Linked DNA regions of Homo sapiens. The protein of the gene in region 1 purifies or fractionates together with the protein of each later gene. This does not show direct contact. Each region holds a gene or a part of one and is shown in the gene's direction. Other genes may lie near its edges.

Region 1 (4,622 bases):
ATTATCATTTTTCCAGAGTAAACCTTCTAAGGTTCATTTCCCTACCTCGCAAGACTCCACATTCCATGTAACATCTTCATCCCCAATTCCCATAATAAGGTGATTGAGGATCTGTTGTTTCCTTTTGTTCAAAATAAACCTGATGTGCTTCAAATATCATGTTGAATATACTGTCATCTGGTCTAATGTTATGTTTTGATTAGAGGCTACTATGATTGATTATTTTACAGATGCGTAATGGAATTAACGGTTATAAAAGTTGATATGTCTCCTTTAATTTTTTAATACAGAATTTTGCATTTACCTGAATTAGAGTTCTAGTGTTATGACAACATTGGGAAAAGAGTAAATATGAAAAAAGTAGAACAAAATCTCAAATTAATAGTTGAATATATATATAAAATATTAGCATACACATATGATAACTTTTTCATATGCCCTTGCAGTATTTTTAGATTGGAGATAAACCATCAAAACTATAGAACAAAATATTTAAGCTAGAGTGATATTTATTCTAAATCACTTTCTACTCTAAAATTTTGTTGCATCTTCTTTTTTTCCTCCTAAATCCTAAGGGTATATGAAAAGACAAAGAAAATTCAAGCAAGTTACAACTTCAGGCAAAGAAAACTCTCATAAGCAATTCCTGTATTTTACTTAGCATTTTCTATGAAATTCCATTTCCACAAGCACTAAGGTAATTTACCATTTAGTTGAATTGTTTGATTAATTTTCTATGTTTTAAGCACAATATCAGGTACTTACAGAAGGTATAATTAAAAATCACTTCCCTTGTTTTCCATGAACTTCTGCTCCCAAACCCAAAATTCTTTCAACAAGAAACAAACTATTTTCATGAATATAACTGAATTAGATTAAGGAAACCAATGTTGGTGACTTGGAAATACCAATATGGCACAAAGATGTTCAGGGTGATTTTATTTATTTTATAAAATGATAATAAAATTTATTTTATAGTTGAAAAGCCTATTTCTGTCATATCATTGATTCTGTTACATAAAGTGCTAAATTTTGATATCTCATATTATGCTACTATGGCTTACATTAGAAATAATATATGTCAAATAAAAACTCATCTAGATCAATAGACTTTTCCTTTGTGGATTCTTTTTTAAAACTACCAAGTTTGAGAATATGAATATATTTGTTTTTCATATTGTTCTGCAATGAATATAAAGTCACTTATAATCAGAAAGCAATTAAATGTAAATAACAGTAAAGAATGAGAACTATAGAAAATAGATATGAAAATGCAAGCCCACAGAGATGAGAATAGATCATGTGGAACATAAACACTAAAGAGCTGCTTTTATAAAACTTCAATTTTTTCTTTGAGTTCCCTAGCAGCCAAAGTAACAAGGGAGACTGAAAGTAAAACAATTCAAATTTGATAGTATTTTTATATGAGGAACAACACTTTCAGGAAATGTTTAACCCTAGTTTTTCATGAGGCCACCTTAACAACTGAATTCTCTTTCTCTCTCACTCTGTGTATAAGTATTTTAGATAAGTAAAAGAACAATGTTATAATGTTAAGTCAAACATAGACACAATAATTTAAATTTGATGTTAATCGAGAAATACAATGCCATTTCCATATATATTTAGTTTCAATATGACTTATAATCTGAATATTCCATAAATAAGCACGTTGGAAATATTTGGGGGAAGAAACCCAAAACACGTGAAATTCTGTGGTGGTAAATGCAGTGCACAGTACTCACAGTTTTAGGCGCAAGGTGTCGCTCTTTACTTGGTGGAAAGTTCATTTAAAGGTTGGTCTGAACAGTGAGGCACTCCCATACAAAGGAACTCCATCATACCGGATGCCACCGTTTAAGGATCCTTTGAAACTTCTTAAGAATTCAACGAGATTTTTAACCTGAAACTGAAGAATCTGGTACTGTAAGTGTAAAGAAGCTTATTTTGGAAGCCAATTTCGTATGCGATGTTTGGTTTTCAGAGAAGGGGATTGGGCACCCCACGACTACAGCTCTGGCTTCTCCTCCTCGAATTCTGGGAGGTGGGGAGCGGCCAGCTCCACTACTCCGTCTCGGAGGAGGCCAAACACGGCACCTTCGTGGGCCGCATCGCGCAGGACCTGGGGCTGGAGCTGGCGGAGCTGGTGCAGCGCCTGTTCCGGGTGGCGTCCAAAACACATGGGGACCTTCTGGAGGTAAATCTGCAGAATGGCATTTTGTTTGTGAATTCTCGGATCGACCGCGAGGAGCTGTGCGGGCAGAGCGCGGAGTGCAGCATCCACCTGGAGGTGATCGTGGACAGGCCGCTGCAGGTTTTCCATGTGAACGTGGAGGTGAAGGACATTAACGACAACCCGCCGGTGTTCTCGCTCAGAGAACAAAAGCTGCTGATTGCGGAATCTAAGCAATCGGACTCGCGTTTTCCACTAGAGGGAGCTTCTGATGCTGACATTGAAGAGAATGCTCTATTGACCTACAGGCTAAGTAAAAATGAGTATTTTTCTTTAGATTCACCAACAAATGGTAAGCAGATTAAAAGACTGTCACTTATTTTAAAGAAGTCTCTGGATAGAGAGAAAACTCCGGAACTTAATTTGCTGCTAACAGCTACAGACGGGGGAAAACCAGAGCTTACTGGCACCGTTCGGCTGTTAGTCCAAGTCTTGGATGTCAACGACAATGATCCAGAGTTTGATAAATCAGAATATAAGGTGAGCCTTATGGAAAATGCTGCTAAAGAAACTCTTGTGCTCAAACTAAACGCCACAGACCGAGACGAAGGAGTCAATGGAGAGGTAACATACTCCTTAATGTCAATTAAGCCCAATGGAAGACACTTATTTACACTAGATCAAAATAATGGAGAAGTGAGGGTCAATGGAACTTTAGATTATGAAGAAAACAAGTTTTATAAAATTGAAGTACAGGCTACAGATAAGGGGACTCCCCCAATGGCAGGTCACTGTACAGTCTGGGTGGAAATCTTGGACACCAACGATAACTCTCCTGAAGTCGCCGTGACTTCCTTGTCCCTCCCAGTACGAGAGGACGCTCAGCCCAGCACGGTCATTGCCCTGATCAGCGTGTCTGACCGTGACTCAGGTGTCAACGGACAGGTGACCTGCTCGCTGACGCCCCACGTTCCCTTCAAGCTGGTGTCCACCTTCAAGAATTACTACTCGTTGGTGCTGGACAGCGCCCTGGACCGCGAGAACGTGTGGGCCTATGAACTGGTGGTGACTGCGCGGGATGGGGGTTCGCCTTCTCTGTGGGCCACGGCCAGGGTATCCGTGGAGGTGGCCGACGTGAACGACAATGCGCCTGCGTTCGCACAGCCCGAGTACACCGTGTTCGTGAAGGAGAACAACCCACCAGGCTGCCACATCTTCACAGTGTCGGCGCGGGACGCGGACGCGCAGGAGAACGCGCTGGTGTCCTACTCGCTGGTGGAGCGGCGGTTGGGCGACCGCGCGCTGTCGAGCTACGTGTCGGTGCACGCGGAGAGCGGCAAGGTGTACGCGCTGCAGCCGTTGGACCACGAGGAGCTGGAGCTGCTACAGTTCCAGGTGAGCGCGCGCGATGCGGGCGTGCCGCCTCTGAGCAGCAACGTGACGCTGCAGGTGTTCGTGCTGGACGAGAACGACAACGCGCCGGCACTGCTGGCGACTCAGGCTGGCAGCGCGGGAGGCGCAGTTAACAAGCTAGTACCGCGGTCGGTGGGTGCGGGCCACGTGGTGGCGAAGGTGCGCGCAGTGGATGCGGACTCAGGCTACAACGCGTGGCTTTCATATGAATTGCAGCCGGCGGCGGGCGGCTCGCGCATCCCGTTCCGCGTGGGGCTGTACACGGGCGAGATAAGCACAACGCGTGCCCTGGACGAGGCAGACTCGCCGCGCCACCGACTTCTAGTACTGGTGAAGGATCACGGTGAGCCGGCGCTGACGGCCACGGCCACCGTGCTGGTGTCGTTGGTGGAGAGCGGACAGGCGCCAAAGGCCTCTTCCCGGACTTTGGCGGGCGCCGCGAGCCCAGAGGCTGCGCTGGTGGATGTCAACGTGTACCTGATCATCGCCATCTGCGTGGTGTCCAGCCTCCTGGTACTCACGCTGCTGCTGTATACGGCGCTGTGGTGGTCGGCAACGCCCACTGAGGGCGCGTGCGCGCCGGGGAAGCCCACGCTGGTGTGCTCCCGCGCGGTGGGGAGCTGGTCATACTCGCAGCAGAGGCGGCAGAGGGTGTGCTCTGAGGAGGGCCCACCTAAGACGGACCTCATGGCCTTCAGCCCCAGTCTTCCTCTAGGTCTGAATAAAGAGGAGGAAGGGGAAAGACAGGAGCCAGGGTCAAATCACCCCGGACAGGTGAGTTTTCTACAGATTCCACCTATCAGGAAGTGTATGTGAAATTATTTAAAATCCAGTTTTTTTTCACGGATTTTTTAAGGGAAAGTTTTATGAATAACCAGTGTTTTGAATATTGTTTTAGATAACAATGTCTGTTCATAAAATACCAAATGATACACATCTTCAGTCTTTTAATCATATGAATAATCTGGCTTCTTTAACCAATAAATGTCCTATTTCTCTTAATATTTGGTTAGCAAATCCTAAAAGAAATGAGATG
Region 2 (3,822 bases), on another chromosome or scaffold:
TGTAATCACATGTTATTCAAAACAGGAAGCATGCTTTCTGAATCATTAAAGAGAATAATTAGAAAAATATATCCTGTATAGAAAAGATAGAAAATAATTTATACAGCATGGAAATCACCTTTACTTAAAAGATTGAAAGAACTTTTAAAATTGTCTTTACTTGGCATATTTCTTGCAAGAAATTTCTTCACAGTGTTTTCAGTCTTTTCTAAATTATCTTGACTTTTATTCTTACCTTACTGAATGTGTTAATCATGAATGGATAACGCATTATAACAAGTACCTTTTTAGGTACAAGATGATATTTTGATGGAAACTTACTCTTCTTGAACATGATGACATTGATGACCTAACACTGAACCATGTTTGCATAACTAAAATAAATCCCACTGGGACTTAGTATATTATTCTTTATAGATTTGATTTACTAGCATTTTAATATTTACAGCTATATAAAAAGATTTGTCTGAGGTTTTCTTTTATGTTTACTGTGGTAGGTTTTAGTGTCAGGGCTAGCACTGTGAAACAATTGAGAAACTCTCTATCTTTCACTTCTTCATATATTCATTGGTTGGGTTCTGGAGCCAGGAAAGGGGGAAGAAATTTTAGTTGTTCTTCTCCTACTTCACTCACCTAGGACTCTGACTAAAATCAATAGTACTATAATTAAATTATATAGTTTACTGCTTAGCTAGGTTTTTTGGGGGACTAGCTTGGGAACCAAATTACCATCTCAGGCCATTTTTTTCCTTTATGAAATATCCTTAGCAAATTCTAAATAATTAATTAAAAGATATGTATTAATTAATTAAAAGATTTCTGTGTATTTCTCTCTCCCATCTTCTTCTTTCACTGCCAGCATGATCAGGTGGCTGTGTATTATACCCTGGCAGCCACCCAGCTAGTGAATTCATTTTGGCTTCTGTTACCTGGTGTTTAATCTGAGTATTTTAAATGCTAAATCTTATTAGTAAACCTGTTGAAAGCTTGGCTCTAGAAACAAAGCCTAACTCATACACTTCTGGTGAGACTTTGATACAACTTTCTGTGTGGCAATTAGGCAATTCTTTACATCATCTGTTTTTTTTTTTTTTTTTGACCCAGCACTTCTGTTCATAGAAGATAAGCTGAAAGAAATCATTGCAGATATATGGGAAGATTTAGTTCCAGTGATGCACAGTTGAAGCATCTTTTATAAATGTAAAGATGTGTAAACAACTTGAATGCTCAGCAGTAGGGAATTAGTTAAATGAATATAGATAATTTAGTAATGGAACATTAAGTAACCATAGAATGTTACTGATAAATATATGTGTGACAGTGAAAGTTGTCTGTCATATATTAAGTGAAAAAAACATTTTACAAAACTTAAAGGCCCCATAAAATCCCATTTTGAAAAATAGGTTTGTAAATGCACGCACACAGCCTGGAATTACACATACTGAAGTAAAGGTAGTGGTGATCTCTTGGGGGCATGAGATTATGGGTAACTGTTTTCTTCTTTTCTGTTAGTGTTATCAGGTTTTCTGGAATGAACATATGTTACTACTGAAATAAGGAAAAAAATCACCCTTTTTTTTAAAAAACAAATGCCAGCACACATACAATATGTAGAAATTAAGAAGTAATGCATAACTAGAAAATCATTCCAAATAAAATGATATGAACATTGAGTTTTTAATTGTGTAGTGCCTACTATCTCTGGGGACACTAAGTCTTAAGCAGAGAAACCAAACCAAATGCAGATCTCCTAGAATCCTCATCTAGAAAGATCCAAGTCTGTTCTTATCACATCTATTTTCAAAAAAAATATTTTGCCCTCGTCATGCTTGAAAGGAGTTCTTTAACTTAAAAATTTTATGTGTTCTAATTATTTCTGTTGGGTTATTTGACAGACCGCCTGGACATTAGGGCAGCCCGGATTCTTCTGGATAATGACCATTACGCCATGGAAAAATTGAAGAAAAGAGTACTGGAATACTTGGCTGTCAGACAGCTCAAAAATAACCTGAAGGGCCCAATCCTATGCTTTGTTGGCCCTCCTGGAGTTGGTAAAACAAGTGTGGGAAGATCAGTGGCCAAGACTCTAGGTCGAGAGTTCCACAGGATTGCACTTGGAGGAGTATGTGATCAGTCTGACATTCGAGGACACAGGTAGAACACTTCTCTCAGTTTAATCTCTGATTCCTCTTTCTTTTTAATTGACTAGAGCTCCCTAAAAGCTTAGGCATAGCATACATCTATTTTCCTTAAAGGGCTATGTGTGGTACCTTGAATGAAAAGGACATTTACAAGAAGTATCAGCTAGCCTAGAGCCTCTAAGCGTAATGATAAACCCAAACTAACCTTGATTTGTATGACAGTGGATACTACTCTGTGCCTCAACTTTCCTGGAATCTCATTTGAATGTAATTATAAGTTATTTATGATTGGATATTATTATGTCTTTACACTCTTTTCAACCCAGTAGCATGCCATAAATAATGATCCCTAACTCTCAGAGTTAAAAAAAGTAACTGCAATAGGGAGGGCCAATAGGAGGAGGTGAGAAGTCTTTGATAACAAACTTGTTCTGATTGCAGTCTAAACTTCCTCTTATGAAGGTTGGTTTGTATTATGAATATGAGTAATAAGGATAAATGTTAGCATAATTATTAAGGCTTATTCTTGCATTTTGGACTCACTTTCTATAAAAAAACAATAAACTGTAAGAACTGTCCCTCTAGGCTGGGCACAGTGGCTCATGCCTGTAATCCTAACACTTTGGGAGGCTGAGGTGGGTGGATTGTTTGAGCCTAACAGTTTGAGACCAGCCGGGGCAACATAGGGAAACACTTTTGTCTCTACAAAATTTATATTTAAATTTTTTAATTTTAAATTTTAATTTTTGTCTCCACAAAAATTAAAAAATTATGCAGGCACAGTGGCATGCACCTGTGGTCCCAGCTACTCAGGAGGCTGAGATGGGAGAATCATTTAGGCCTGGGAAGGTCCAGGCTGCAGTAAGCCATGATTGTCCCACTGCACGCCAGCCTGGAGACAGAGACATTATCTCAAACAAACAAACAAACAAACAACAACAAAACTGTTTCTGATTAATCTGACATTATTAGAATCAGATTTGCATGTTGCATTCATTGTTCTCACTGGTCTCTTTGTTGATCTGATGGAAATTGCCTTGGGAAAGCATGAATTTACATTTCGTGGTTTAAGGGATTCATAGCAATTGTAAGTTGTGAGAAAACATACCTATAGTGTATGTGTTAAAGAACATGTTTAAATGTAGGAACCATGAACTGCTTATAAAAGAATATGATGCTTTTTTAATATCTTGTTTTCTATGTGCCTTATTCAAAGGGATCCCTATCCATAGACAGGGATGGGAAACTGTTTCAGAAACTTTTCTATAAGAAATGGTTATTTTTATTCTCTTTTATTTGCTCACTTAAAATTCTTACGCATTTAAAAAGTATCATTACTGGCCTTGTGTAGTAGCTCATGCCTGTAATCCCAGCACTTTGGGAGGCCAAGGCAGGCAGTTGCTTGAGCTCAGGAGTTCAAGAACAGCCTGGGCAACTTGGTGACACCCCATCTCTAAAAAAATAATAATAATAAATTTTAAAAAAGACTCATCACAAGATTTTAGTAAATAAACAATGAGGCGTGCAGATCAGAGTAGAGAATTGATTTGGGTGATTTCTTCTGGCAATTTCAAAAGATATTTTTGTTGCCTAGACTTCTTATTCTTGCATGTACCACTAGAGGCTATAGTTTGCTTTCGTAAAGGAATTGGCATTTCTCTTGGACCAAACTCAAAGAAGC

Evidence for each region.
Region 2: the proteins of PCDHA11 (region 1) and LONP2 purify together in Homo sapiens (affinity purification with mass spectrometry; one large-scale study listed by BioGRID and IntAct). This does not show direct contact.

The regions. Positions count from the first base shown.
Region 1 is NC_000005.10:140,867,135-140,871,756, forward strand, and holds the start of PCDHA11 (protocadherin alpha-11 isoform 1 precursor), read left to right. Parts: upstream 1-1,822; 5' UTR 1,823-1,969; coding exon 1,970-4,360; coding exon of another isoform or gene 4,361-4,402; exon of another isoform or gene 4,403-4,466; intron 4,467-4,622. UniProt on the Homo sapiens protein: Potential calcium-dependent cell-adhesion protein. May be involved in the establishment and maintenance of specific neuronal connections in the brain.
Region 2 is NC_000016.10:48,268,121-48,271,942, forward strand, and holds part of LONP2 (lon protease homolog 2, peroxisomal), read left to right. Parts: intron 1-1,895; coding exon 1,896-2,154; intron 2,155-3,822. UniProt on the Homo sapiens protein: ATP-dependent serine protease that mediates the selective degradation of misfolded and unassembled polypeptides in the peroxisomal matrix.